Linked DNA regions of Homo sapiens: region 1 is linked to region 2. Evidence: fine-mapped expression QTL. Tissue or cell type: whole blood. Region 2 holds a variant in brackets; the other region holds the start of a gene. All regions are shown on one strand. Distances are from middle to middle.

What was found. PIP is the estimated chance that this variant, and not a neighbour inherited with it, causes the effect.
Region 1: it holds the start of TSPAN18, and the variant in region 2 is fine-mapped to the expression of TSPAN18 in whole blood (TOPMed, PIP above 0.99). The same link has a PIP of 0.9 or more in T cells and blood mononuclear cells.

What each region holds. Positions count from the first base shown.
Region 1 is chr11:44,722,968-44,729,044 of GRCh38, reverse strand. It overlaps TSPAN18 (tetraspanin 18), which reads right to left and starts at 2,083. Exons shown (of 10, transcript NM_130783.5): 1 at 1,758-2,083. The region is part of intron 2 of TSPAN18-AS1 (TSPAN18 antisense RNA 1); the gene reads left to right. RefSeq lists enhancers at 1-78, 79-581, 2,297-2,466, 1,833-2,694, 2,695-3,555 and silencers at 951-1,120, 1,957-2,106.
Region 2 is chr11:44,677,218-44,685,497 of GRCh38, reverse strand. No RefSeq gene overlaps it. Among named protein-coding and RNA genes, the nearest start is that of LINC02704, 20 kb to the left of the region's middle. The variant C/T (reference allele first, on the strand shown) is at 4,349.

The sequences.
Region 1 (6,077 bases), 45 kb before region 2:
CAGGGACCCCCATTTCCCCCACCTTTGTAAGGGACATTAAGGACATGGGAGCAGGAGGGGGGCTGCCCAAGGAGCACAGGTTACCAGCTAAGAGAAAGATGAAAACTTCTACCAACCACAATGAGGCCACGGCACAATCTATGATTTGCTCCTTTGCACTCACTTGGGGTGATGGGAGGAGGGAGGGAACTGGAGAGAAAGATGAGGCAATAGTCCCTCCAATGTCCCTTCAATGTTAGCCCCGCACATGACAAAGATGACAGTCCTCACAGATGCCAGCAGCCGTCGACTTCCCAAGGCACAGACACACAGACTCAACATACAGGGACCCTGAGGCCAGACAACTGGGACCCAGGGCAGATTTCCACCAATAATTGTGAAATGACCAGAAGAATGTGGCCTAGAGACCACAGACCCAGGGGATGAGGGTGGGGGCCAGGGCTCGTTGACTGCTGAGAAATTTAACACTTCTGCCTGGACTGCTGAAGTCTTTAAGGCCCCATCCCCCACCGCCCGCCCTGTGCCTCCCAGTTTACTTGTGCCCAGAGAGAGGATACCCCAAGACCCCCATCCTGCCTTCACCAGACAGGGATTCGACCAGATCCAGGAAACAAAGGTGCAACTTTTACAAAAAGGGTGCATGCATTTTGGGGTTTGGGTTTCTGCAACTCCAAAAACCGTCAAAAAGTTAATTCCCCAACCCACTCTCTCTGCACCAATTCGCAGTTGTAGTTTCTTACATCTTTTTCTGGGGGTAAATTTCTTACTCATCCATTTGCCCTGGCAGCCTTCCCGAGAAAAATCACATCCTGACTCCTAGCCTTTCCAGCCCACGGCGCAGTTATAACTGTGAACCTTTCGCCTCACTCTTGGTCCCGCTCCCCCGTCTGGCTAGTGTAGGGCGGGCTCCTCGGGGCGGGACCCCGCGTAAGTTGGGTGTCTGTGGTCCCTGCGTCCTGGATGTCGGCGCGGTTGCCTCGCAGGAGCCAGAACGCGCTTCCTGCTGGCGAGGGCCGGGGCAGTGCGCCCCCTGGCGGGAGCCCAGTCACCTCACTCCAGCAGGACCCGGAGCCGGCGCGATCCCACCCGAGCCGAGCACCGTCCCAACTGGCTCCCACTGCCCCCTAAATCTGGACGTGCCCGAGCCTCCCACCCACCCAGCACTCCATGGAGTCTCCACTTCCCCAAACCGCACACACCTAAGGAATAAGGGGGGTCCTGGAGGAACGAGTGGCGCCTCCGCCCCGCCCCGCCCCGCTGCCAGGGACCCCAAAGGCAGCCCGCCCTCCATGCAGCTGCCGGGCCCCACAGCCCTCCCGGCCCCGATCGCCGCTCCCAGTCCCTGGTCCCTCACTGTCTTACCGGGTGGCGTGGCGAGCAGCCCCTTTCCGGGCGCAGCCCTGGCCGAAACCCCGAACCTTGTAACCACACCTGCCACCCCGCGCCGTTCTCCAGAAGCCCCCACTCCTCCACCCGGAGCACTGGGAGCCCACCGGCTCTGCACCTGTCCTGGGCGCAGCCCCCGGCCCTCAGCGGACTCCGGGCAGGCACGGGGTGGAGACCGTCCCCGGCCCCCCAGCCCCCGCGTGCTAGTTTGAGTGGAACTTGGTTGCCGGGCTTCCGTCCTGGGATCCCTACTCCACCCCAATTCCCCGCCGCGTCCAGCAGCACCCCCGGGGCGGCGCGCGGGGGGGTCCCCAGGTCCCCGGGGGCGCGGCGGCGGCGTGCGGAGGGCACGGAGGTGCGGAGCCCCATACCTTCCAGCGGCGGCTGCCGGACCCCGCGCCAAATCCCGCCGGCGGCCGGGGGGAAACTTTCCTGGTCGGAGGGGCGCGCTCGCAACTTGCCCGGCGCCGGCTGCCTTCCCGGCGGTGGCGGCGCGTCCGGGGACCCGCAGCGCGAGGCGGCGGCGCTCGCTCGGGGCTCGGGGCCGGGACCGGGGCCGGGGCCGGGGCCGGGGCCGGGGCCGGGGCTGGGGCCGGGGCCGGGGCTGGGGCTCGGGCGGCCTCGCGCGGCTCCGCGGTGGATCGCTCGGCGCTACGTCCGCCCCGCAGCCTGGAGCCCCGCGACGCCGGCGGCAGCTGCACGCCCGCCAGCCCGCCGGCCCCACCTCCGCCGCCGTCCGTCCCTCCCCTCCCCCGCCCTCCCTCCCCCTCCCCAAACCTCCGCCCCTCCCGGCTCCAGACGCCGTTGCTGCCGAGAAGCGCGTCTCCTCTGCGGGCTGCCCCTCGCCTCCCGCCAGCCTCCGCCTCCTCCTCCAACCCCGCGTCCAGGCCTTGTCTGGGGGTCCCTGGGCCCACCCTCTGCCCATCTCCCCTTCCTCCGCCTCCGACCACCTCCCGCTCTGCTCGCGGGCCCTCTCTGCGTCTGAATTCGGAAGATCGTTGCGGGAGTGGGGAGAGGGGCATGCTGGACCCGAAGTGTTTATTCCAGGGGAACTTTCAGCTGACCCCGGGGCCCAAACGCAGGGGTTGGGGTGAGATCCTCGGTCCTGATCGGGCTCCTGGGCTTCCCGCTGCCGGGGGAAGTACCTGTTGAAAGCCTGGGGAACTCACCCTCCTCTGACTTGCAGATAAGAAAGGGGACTTCCTGCATGGAGGGGCCTGACCCCAGGTCAGATGCAAATGACTTGATTGCAAGGGGCCAGATCTGTGTCTCCGGCCTCAGGGCTGAGGTTCTTGCGGGGCTGGGGAGCTTATCTTTTCTTCTCTGTACTGCTGCCACAGCAGCACTGGCTCCCAACCCCTGACATGACTTGCCTGAGACTTTTAACCTCTGAGCCTCCTCTAAACAACTACCCGACCCTGCCCCAGACAAAACGGACAAGCAAGCAGATCAAAACTGACAGCCCAAGTGAAAGTACTGATGACAGGGGCTCGGGTCGCCCACTCCTCTTCCCTTGGCAACTCTGTTTTGAGTCCCAGCTTGAAGCTTCCACACCCCATCCCCGTGGGCCCTAGGCATTCAAGCACACATCAGCTCTGCAGGAGGCCCCTTGGCCAGCTGATTCTCACTAAGGGGTGACTGATAGGAAGGAGTTGACCCTACTCCTGTCTTGTATATGGATGTTGGTAGTCAGGCCACTGGGCAGAGTTTGGGGGGAGGGGGATCTTCTTGTTTTGTTTTTGTTTTGTTTTTGAGACAAGGTCTCGCTCTGCTGACCAGGCTGGACAAGCCTGGTCAACAAGCACAGCTCACTGTAGCCCGACCTCCTGCACGGCTTACTGTAGGCTCGACCTCCTGGGCTCAAGCAATCCAATCCTTCCAACTCAGCCCCCTCGAGTAGCTGGGACCAGAGGCATGTGCCATCATGCCTGGCTAATGTTTTCTGTTGTTTTTGGTGTGTGTGTGTGTGTGTGTGTGTGTGTGTGTGTGTGTGTGCGTGTGTGTTTTGTAGAGCTGGACTCTTACCATGTTGCCCAGGCTGGTCTCCAATTCCTGGCCTCAAGTGATCCTCCCACCTCAGTCTCCCAAAGTGCTGAGATGACAGACGTAGCCACTGCACCCAGCCACCAGCCAGAGTTTTGAGAGGCAGGAAGTGGCTGCCTTTCCTTGCCCACATTCCAGGAAATGGATTCGTCCCTGTAAGGGGATGTCCCTGTAAGGACTTCAGGGATGTCTGGTCCTTTAAAGAACTTCACCGCGTCACCGGGACTCTTAGAGTAGGCACGTGGCTGGAAGAAAAATCCCTGGATCCGCGGTTTCAAAGGGACCCAGAGTGAGCAAAGCTTCACCCAAGGGGAGGAAGTCCCTAATGGTGGAATTTCTATAAGAGGAGGACAAGGAGAAGGGCTCCACATTCACCCTTCAGCTGCCAAAACAGAATGGAGGGTGGAGGCTGAACACCCCACAGGCCCTGCACTTGTGGAATGCTGCTGGGAGAGGCCCCGTGTGAGCCTCCTTGGACACCAGGCGCCACATACATTTAAAGAGGAAAAACGGGAAGCCCACAGCAAGGGTGCTGGAGCTGGGGAAGTGGAGACCAGAGACAGGCAGAGAGAGGGATAGAGTCTCTAAGGGTCTGGGGCTTGGCAGAACGGGGCAGGCGCAGGGGAAGAGAGTGCAGACCCGCTGCACAACTTAGACAACCAGCTCGGTCCCTGACTCCAGTTCCAAGTCAGTTTCCTGGACCTCAGCCTCTCTCCAGCCTCCATGGAGGACCTGGCCCTATCTGTGCATTAGCTAAGGACATCTGCTGAATAGGCTTCTCTAAATCAACTCTTATTTTTTCATTCTTTTTTAATTTACTTAAGTGAGCTTGTTTTTAAAAAGATATGTTAAATTATTACCATAAATGGAAAGCCAGCATCACATTACTATAAATAGAAGGTAACCATCAAAATAAATACAATGAAAATAAGTGTTATTAAATTCTAACAATGTATCTTTAACCACAATAATAATAATACAGTCTAACAAGATACTGCTGCCTGAGGAGGTGTTGAAGCTGAGGTCCCACTTTCTCTTTGAAAGGAAGGTTACCAAAGGCTAGAAAGGTGTTAAAGACACATTAGCAACAAACTCTTCATCAAGAGCATTGATGAAAAGAGAATTGGGAAGGGACCCCCTCCACTCCCACTCCTCACCAGGTCAATTAGGGTATTGGAGGCCCTTGGATTACCTCCAATGACCTTAATTTCCTTGAACATCTCGAATGTCCTCTCAATTGGGAAACATAATTCTATGTATTGGTGCAAAAGTAATTGTGGGCTGGGTGCAGTGGCTCACACCTGTAATCCCAACACTTTGGGAGGCCTAGGTGGGTGGATCACGAGGTCAGGAGATTGAAACCCTCCTGGCCAACATGGTGAAACCCCGTCTCTACTAAAAATACAAAAATTAGCTGGGCATGGCAGCACGTGCCTGTAATCCTAGCTATTCGGGAGGCTGAGGCAGGAGAATTGCTTGAACCCGAGAGGCAGAGGTTGCAGTGAGCCGACATTGCGCCACTGAACTCCAGCCTGGCGACAGAGCTAGACTCTGTCTCAAAAAAAAAAAAAGAAAAAAGTAATTGTGGATCTCATCATTGAATGTAATGGCGAGAACCACAATTACTTTTGTACCAACCTTATATTAGGCCAAAAAAGTACTTTATTTTTTTAAAGTTAGGCGCCCGAAAAATTTAGTCCTGGACAAGATAAGGCTGACTCGGGTTACAGGAAGACCGCACCTCCCTCTCACAAGGTAATCTTGAGGAAATCCCTCCCTTCTCTGGCCTCGGTCCTTACATCTGTAAAATGGAGGCTTGGGCAAATGGCCCATAGAATCCCTTTGGCTGTTTGATGAAAGCAAGTAAGACACCAAGATTGTGGCTTATCAGGAAACTTAGAGGGTGAAGTCTCCACCAAGGAGAGGGGCTAAAGAGGGGAGAAGCTGGGAAGGAACGAAAGAGCAGGTGGTGGGGCTGTGGATGGATGGGCAGTCCTCAGGAGGGAGAAGGAGCAGTGAAGGCCAGAGCCGACCCACTGGAGTCTAGGTTGGCAGAAACCCGGAAGTGGCCTGGCCTGAAAGTTCTAAAAAGATTCGGGAAGGAAACTTGTGGAGAATTCACTGTAATCCAACCACTTCATTTCACCAATAGGGAAACTGAGGAAGAAACATAGACTAGATTCTCATCATGGTTAAGAGCTGGGCATTGAACCCAGACCTCCTGACTCCCAGGCCAGGGTGCTTTCAATACCTCTGGAATTGGGGCATCTAGTGGAAGTGGTTCTTCTGAAAATACTCACCTTTCCCCTAGGAAGCTCTTAGGCTTCGCTTTCTCCAGCATCTGGAGAAAAAAGTTGAATTGGCCTAAAAGCCCCAAATTCACCGAAGTGTGTCTAGTGCTGCACCACCCAGGTTCTACGCCCCAATCACTGTACACAGGATTTACAGTGATTGGGGTGAGCATTTGCAGACCTAATGCCCAGCAAAGATCCCTGAACCAGGAGTCCACAGGCCCACGTTCCAGTCTTGGCCATCTGGGCGATTCCTTCCCCTCTCTGGGCCTCAGTGTTACCATCTGTGAAATGAGGCATCTGGACAAGATCAACAGGTTTCAAGTTGGGTTGGTAGGTACTGCTCCTGGGTATCTT
Region 2 (8,280 bases):
TGGCCAAGCATGTGGGCTCTGAACTCAGCTTGCCTGGGTTCAAATTCTGACTCCACTACGTATTACTTAAGGGACTTCAGGCAAGTTACTCAGCCTCCCCCTTCAGCATGAGGAGTGGCCACAGTCCAGGTTTAGGGATAGGAAGTCGCCTCCACCTGGGCAGAAGCAGCTCCATCTCAGACTCCACTGACCGACAAGGCAGACGGGGCACCAGCAGACGGGGCACCTGCAGTCAGCACCTGAATGCCTCTCCTCCCTCAGACTCCCCTTGCGGCCAGCTTTGTACTCCTGCCTGGCCAAACACATAAAGCCTTGTTAATAATGAATAGGCCCCTGTCTGCCTTACTTAACACTGAAGCTCCAGGCAGATGCACAGCCCTTTATAAATGATCCAGTCCAGCTGATTAGGCCCCGTGGGGCGCATTCCTGCAGCCAGCCTCTTGTTCCCCGTAATGGAATCATAATGTTAATGTGATTTCAATTAGGGCTATGTTACAGAACACAGGTGCTGGAGTGAGCCTGCAGGCGGGGAGGCCTCCTCAGGGACTCATTTTCCTGGGAAAGGTACGCGTCTTTCCAAGGCCTCAGGAAAAAGCAAGTCACCCCGGCTGAAGGGAAGACATGAAAGCAGGGACGAGAGGTATCAGAGCCCACACTCCCGGCTCTTCAGGGGCCCCAGACTTGTTTCTTATTCAACTTGAGTAGCAGGCCCCTTTTACAGAGTGTCTTGGGGGCCCCTGAGATCCACAGGTCCCAATTTGAGAAACAACGGCCCAAGAACCAAAATCTTATCCCAGGAAAATGTCTTTCTGTTGCGAATTATCACTGCAACAGAGATGAATAAATGATAGATGGCTTTTTTATTTTTCTTAATAAAAATAGCTCACATGTATGGAGGCTTCACTATGTCCCAGACACAACTTTTAGTACATTATGTGTATGTACAACTCATTCCTCGGATTTCATTATGAAAATGAAAGCACACAAATATTTTTTGGACAATTTTCTTTTTCTTTTTCTTTTTCTTTTCTTTTTTTTTTTTTTTTTTTGTTGAGACAGAGTCTTGTTCTGTTGCCCAGGCTGGAGTGCAGTGGCACAATCTTGGCTCACTGCAAACTCCGCCTCCCAGGTTCAAGTGATTCTCGTGCCTCAGCCTCCCGAGTAGCTGGGATTACAGGTGTGCACCACTATGCCTGGCTAATTTTTTTGTATTTTTAGTGGGGATGGGTTTTCACCATGTTGGTCAGGCTGGTCTCGAACTGCTGGCCTCAAGTGATTTGCCTGCCTTGGCCTCCCAAAGTGCTGGGATTACAGGCATGAGTCACTGTGCCCGGCCATTTTTTGGACACTTTTCATAGAATGCAAGGACCCCCTAAGGACACATTTCCAGATTGCAGTCTGAGAAACCCCAGCCTGGGGTAGCTGGGCCAGATGGGACCTTCAGGGAGCCCTGGGCCAGTTCTCATCCTACAGGTGAGGAAGCCAAGAGCCAGAGAGGGGAAGGGACTTGCCCAAGGCCTCCTTGCAAGTCAGTGGCCAATAGAACATCCAACCCAGATGCCCTGCCCCCCAGGGCCCAAGCCCTTTTTCCTTCCACCATGCTCATGATGAAGAAAGTATGGGGAGAAAATAAAAATTATCCCAAATCCCGCTACCCAGAAATCTCCATTGCTGACATCCTAGAATATCCTTCCAGCCTTTTACTCCAGACATATACAACTGGCCCTCCATATCTGCAGTTTCTGCATGTGCAGATGCAACCAACTGAGGGTCATAAATATTCAAAAAACTAAAACCAAAAAATGCAACAATAAAAATAATACAAGTTAAAAATATACTACAGCAACTATTTATGTAGCATTTACATTGTATTAAGTATTATAAGTAATCTAGAGATGATTTGAAGTATATGGGAGGATGTGCATAAGTTATATGCAAATATGACTCCATTTTATATAAGGGACTTGAGTATCTGTGGATTTTGGTATCCACAGGGGATCCTGGAACCAATCCTGTAGGGATACTGAAAGATGACTGTATGCACTTTACAGCACAAAATCGGATAATAGTGACTAGGCTATTTAGTAATCTGTTATTTTTCCCCATCTAAAGATAGCATGTCAACTGGGCAGCACTGGGTCATTTATTTCTGATACCCATGTCATTCTAATGACACCCATGGGCTCAAGGTGGCCTTTTTTGAAGGTCTCATGTTGCCCAGGTTCTCCCATGACTCCTTTATTGCAAACACTAAAAGTGATTTGCATTTCTCTGATCAGGTCTTCAATTCATGCCTCCATGCCCTTTTACTTGCTGGTTTCTACCAGCAAAGCCCTTCTCTGCTTAGCAAAATCACACTCAGCTCACATATTACTTCTGCAGTGAAGCCTTCCCTGGCTACTCTAGCATCATCCTCTCCTCTCCCCGTGCCCTTATCTTCTTGCAATGCTTCTACAGGATGTTTTATCTGGTCCTGTTTGAGCATCTGTCACTTTGTATTTCTACTGTACAGGGTGTCCATAAAATCTGGAAACAGGCAAACATACAGAATATTGTCAAAGACATCTTTCATATGTAACATATACATACATTGTTATGACTTTCTAGGCTTCTGGACTTCATGGATACCCTGTATTTTCACTGGTCAGTCCCCTTCATTCCATGGTGAGTGCTGGAAGTCAGAGAAACACTATCTTCTTCATATTTGTATCTCTAAGGGAGTATTTAGGTGATTATTGATCACAGTTTCCTCATCTGTGACATGGGACCCTTTGGATAGTGGTAGGTGAGATGAGATAATGCAAGAAAGCAATTAGCACAGTGACTGATGCAAAGTAAGCTTTCCATAAATAGTGGCTATAACTGTTTGTAGTATAATTGCTATTGTTATTAAGCCTGTGGCTTTTTGAACAAGGGATGTGCAGAGTGAGGGAGGGATGACTAAATGAACAGATGATGGATGAATGGATAATGAGTGAAAGGATGAGAATATGGATGGGTGATAAAGGGAGAAGGATGGATGATTAATAGAGGCTGGATGGATAGTCTTAGAATGGATAAATGGAAGGATGGAAGGATGGGTGGATGGGTGGATGTATGGATGGATAAATGGATAGATGGATAGATGATGGATGAATGGGTGGATGGATGGATGATGGATAGATAGGTGGGTAGGTGAATGGGTACATAATGGATAGTTGGATGTGTGAGTGATGGATTGATGAATGAAGGGTCCATCTTTTCCTTTCATAAGTAAGGATAGAAGAAAGGAGGCAAGAGGTTGACAGGAAGACCAAAGGTCTTGGTGGCTAGAGACAAGAGTCAAAGGCTACTTGTTATCCCAGCCTTCTACCATAGCCCAGATCTCAACTAGGTCTCATAACTTAGTCTCCGAGTGACTGTTCCTAGGCCGACTTGAGGTTATGCCTCTGGAATAAGAAGAGATTGGCTGTGGAATAGCTGAAGGAGCAAATGTAGGGCTATAAATCTGCCCTTGGCCGAGAGGCTTTCTTAGAATTCACTGTGAAGTTCACTGACCATGAAGTTGCTTCTTGGGGGAAGGGAAGCCCTAAGCTCTCCTCCACTGGCAAGGAAGAGTGAGTCATTATGGTGACCTGAAGGTTGCAGAAGCAAACACCACATTGCTGCCCAGCTGGCCCTAGCTGCAGGTCCTGAGGGGCCTTTTCAGACACATCCAGGAGAGGTCTCAGGGAATGATCCCCAACCAGCCACCCAAGTGGGATTATAGGGGGAGTGAAGAGCAGGGCAAGCCCCTGGGAGGGAGCTTGGAGGGGTCCCAGAATCCTGGAGCACCAGCACCAGCAGAGACTCAGGGATCCTCCAGGCCACCCCACCCATGGGGCAGATGGAGACACAGAGGCAAGAGAGGGTGGTGGCTTCCCCAGGTGCCCTGCAGGTCAATCAAGGGTGGAGTCGGCGCTTGAATGCAGGTCCCAGGCTGTGGGGTCTCTCCAGTCCTCACTGTTAGCTATTCCTTGGCTGTGGGGTGAAACCACCCAGACTCTCCAGGAAACCCTGAGGCTTCTCAGGCAGGGCGTGGCTAGAAGCAGTTTCCTGGGGGCTGGTTTATATTCCGACACTGGTGTGTCTTTCACCACAGCCCCTGTAATGTTCCAGGAGTCACTCTCCAGGATTCTTGGATGCTGAGAAACCCTCCCAGGCCCTGAGGCCGATAAAAGAGTGTTGGATCAAGTCCCTCTCTGCTGCGTGGAGCCCACGGTGATTATCTCTGGGACTCTGACTTGAAGAAGCCAGGAAGACAGAACAGTGGCTTTTCAGGAGCTGCAGGTCAGGCCCTGCCCAGTGGAAACAGCCACACCTGAGAAAC[C/T]CACATCCTTTTGCTGGGGAGCCAGAGTGCCTGGGCGGGGTGTCCTGACTCCTCCCCTTACTAGCATGGCCTTCAGGGAGGTACCTCCTCTCTTTCTGCATTTCATGGCTGAAGAGAGGGGGATGGGGGCGAGGGATGCCAAGAAAGGGTGGCCTGAGAGAAAAGAGGAAACTTAGGAATGCATTTGGGCCTGTTTACTGAAGGCCTGTTTACTCTGCTCCTTGCACCCAAATCCCACTGAAAACAATAACGAATTTGGGGGGAAAAAATAGAGCAAGACCTCCTTTTTTTTTTTCTTTTTTTTTGAGAGAAGTCACCCAGGCTGGAGTGCCATGGCACGATCTTGGCTCACTGCAATCTCTACCTCCTGGGTTCAAGTGATTCTCCTGCCTCAGCCTCCCTAGTAGCTGGGACTACAGGTACCTGCCACCACACCCAGCTAATTTTTGTATTTTTAGTAGAGATGGGGTTTCACCATGTTGGCCAGGCTGGTCTCTAACTCCTGTACTCAGGTGATCTGCCCACCTAGGCCTCCCAAAGTGCTGAGATTACAGGTGCCATTTTTTATTAAACCAGAAAGTATACATGCTGCTAAATGCCACAAATATGAAGAGGGCACAGAGAGACGAGGAGGAAGCCAGTCTCCCTACAGACAGCACCACTGGGAGGCCTCCTCTGTGGATGATAGGGTCTGGGGGCAGCTCAGGCTGCAGGGTCATGAGAAACATCCTTCTGTAGACCCAGTTCAATAGCACAGGACAGTGGGGGGCGAGACGGGACGTGCTGACCGTCCATGTCTCCTGCCTGGCACCCAACTCCTCCCAGCACCAGGAGACTGCTGGGGCGAAGTAGAGGAAGGAGGACGTTTGAAGGCCTTTGCTGAGTCTTGGCAAACCTCAGTGCTGAAGTGGGAGGTGATGTATGTCCAAGGAATAACAATAAAGGATTTGGAAAGAGCATGTCTGCTGGAAACAAACCCTAGTCACTTTCTGGGTTGCATACCTCTCTCTTCAATATCATCCTGCAACAAATGACTGGCTGTGTTCTAAGGTGAATGATAATCACAAAGGAACCAAAAAGGGACTAAAGAAAACAAAAAGGCAATAGAGGTAAGGAACGTAAGCAAAGACCACAAGAACTGACGTCAGGAGAGGACTTATTAAACAAACAAAAAACACAGAGGGAGAGTCAGACACACAGTGCTCCAGGTACTCAAAGAGATTGCACACGACCCAACCTCCTTAATGAGCTAAAAGATGTCAAGGTTTCCATAAAGCACTTATGAGGCAACAGACAGAAAGACACCAGCTCTCAGGAAAGAAATAGAAGCAAAAAATAAAGACACTTTGAAATTAAAAAGACATATGGGCTGGGTGCAGTGGCTGATGCCTGTAATCCCAACAATTTGGGAGGCCAAGGTGGGCAGATTACTTGATGTCAGGAGTTCGAGATCAGCCTTGCCAACATGTCGAAACCCTGTTTCTACTAAAAATACAAAAATTAGCTGGGCGTGGTGGTGGGCACCTGTAATCCCAGCTACTCGGGAGGCTGAGGAGGAGAATCGCTTGAACCCAGGAGGCGGAGGTTGTAGTGAGCCGAGATCGTACTATTGCACTCCAGCCTGGGTGACAAGAGCAAAACTCTGCGTCAATTAAAAAAAAAAAAAAAAAGACGTATGGATACAAACAGCCAACAAACATATGAAAAAAAAATGCCCAACATCACTAATTATCAGGGAAATGCAAATGAACACCACAATGAGCTACCACAGTACTCCTGCAAGAATGGCCATAATTAAAAAGTCAAAAAATAATAGATGTTGATGTGGATGTGGTGAAAATGGAACACTTTTACTCTGCTAGTGGGAATGTAAACTAGTACAACCACTATGGAAGACAGTGTGGAAATACCTTAGAGAACTAAAAATAGAGCTACCGTTCCATCCAGCAATCCCATTGCTGGGTATCTACCCAAAGGAAAAGAAAGTCATTATACGAATAAGACACCTGCATGCATATGGGCATAGCAGCACAGCTCACAATTGCCAAAATATGGAACTAATCATATTCAACCAATCATGTTCCAAAATATGGAACCAACGATATTCAATCAACGAGCGGATAAAGAAAATGTGGTATATATACACCATGGAATACTACTCAGCCGTAAAAAAGGATGGGATAATGTCTTTTGCGGCAACTTGGATGGCGCTGGAGGCCATTATTCTAAGTGAAGTAACTCAGGAATGGAAAACCAAATACCATATGTTCTTACTTATAAGTGGGAGCTAAGCTACGGAGATGCAAAGGCATAAGAATGATATAATGGTGGCTGGGCACGGTGGCTCACACCTGTAATCCCAGAACTTTGGGAGGCTGATGCAGATGGATCACAAGGTCAAGAGATTGAGACCATCCTGGCCAATATGGTGAAACCCCATCTCTACTAAAAACACAAATTAGCTGGGCGTGGTTGTGCGCACATGTAATCCCAGCTGCTCAGGAGGCTGAGGCAGGAGAATCATTTGAACCCACAAGGTGGAGGTTGCAGTAAGCCAAGATTGCGCCACTGCACTCCAGCTGGGCGACTCCGTCTCAAAACCACCCCCCTGCCAAAAAAAAAGAATGATATAATGGACTCCGGGGACTCGAGGTGAAGGGTGAGGGGTAAATGACTACATATTGGGTATAGTGTACACAGCTCGGGTGACAGGTGCACCAAAATCTCAGAAATCACCACTAAAGAATCTACGCAGGTAACCAAAAAACACCTGCACTCCCAAAACTATTCAAATTTTTTTTAAAAAGAAGAAAGACATTATGAAAACAAGAAAAACAACTCATGGGATAAACAGAAACACAGAGTGGAGAAGGCCACATAGTGAACATCTGGGGAAAACACACGAATGTAAAGAAACAAACAAAACATATACCAATAGTTCTATTAATTTTCTAGGGCTGCTGTGGCCAAGTACCACAAGTACTGGATGGCTTAAAATAAGAGAAATGTAATCTCTCATAGTTCTGGAGGCTGGAATTCTGAAATCCTGTTGGTAGCAGCATTGGCTTCTTCTGGGGGCCCTGTGGGAGAAGCTGCTCCACAGCTCCAGCCTAACCTTCTAGGTGTGCCTGGCAACTCTTGGCGGTCTTTGGCTTCTAGCTGCAACAGCCTAATCTCTGCCTTTGATGTTCCACGCATTGTTCTCTCCATGTGTCTGCATCTCCCTCCTCTTCATATAAGGACTCTAGTCATATTGGATTTAGGGCCCCTCTAATCCAGTGTGACCTCATCTGAATTAATTACATCGACCCTATTTCTCAATAAAGTCACATTGTTGGGGACAGGGCATCAGGGCTTCAACATAGCTCTTTGAGGCCAGGCGTGGTGGCTCACACCTGTAATCCCAGCACTTTGGGAGGCCAAGGCAGGTGGATCACAAGGTCAAGAGATAGAGACCATCCTGGCCAACGTGGTGAAACCCCATCTCTACTAAAAATACAAAAATTAGCTGGGCATGGTGGTGTGTGCCTGTAATCTCAGCTCTCCTGCCTCAGGAGGCTGAGGCAGGGGAATCACTTGAACCCGGGAGGTGGAGGTTGCAGTGAGCTGGGATTACGCCACTGCACTCCAGCCTGGCAACAGAGCAAGATTCCATCTCAAAAAAACAAAACAACAACAACAAAAAAACCATAGCTTTTTGAGAGGATCCAACTCAGCCCATAACAGTTATAGGAAAGACTAAGAGACGTGGAGGACAGATCAGAGGCAGACATTTGCACAGTCAGTTCCTGAAAAGAGAAAGAGAACAAATGGAACAACGATGAAAAATAGTCTGACATAACAGGGAAAAACATTCCTAAAATAAAGATTTGAATGTGAATATAAAAGATTGATTCAAGACCATCAGCATCAAGCATTATACGCTAATGAAG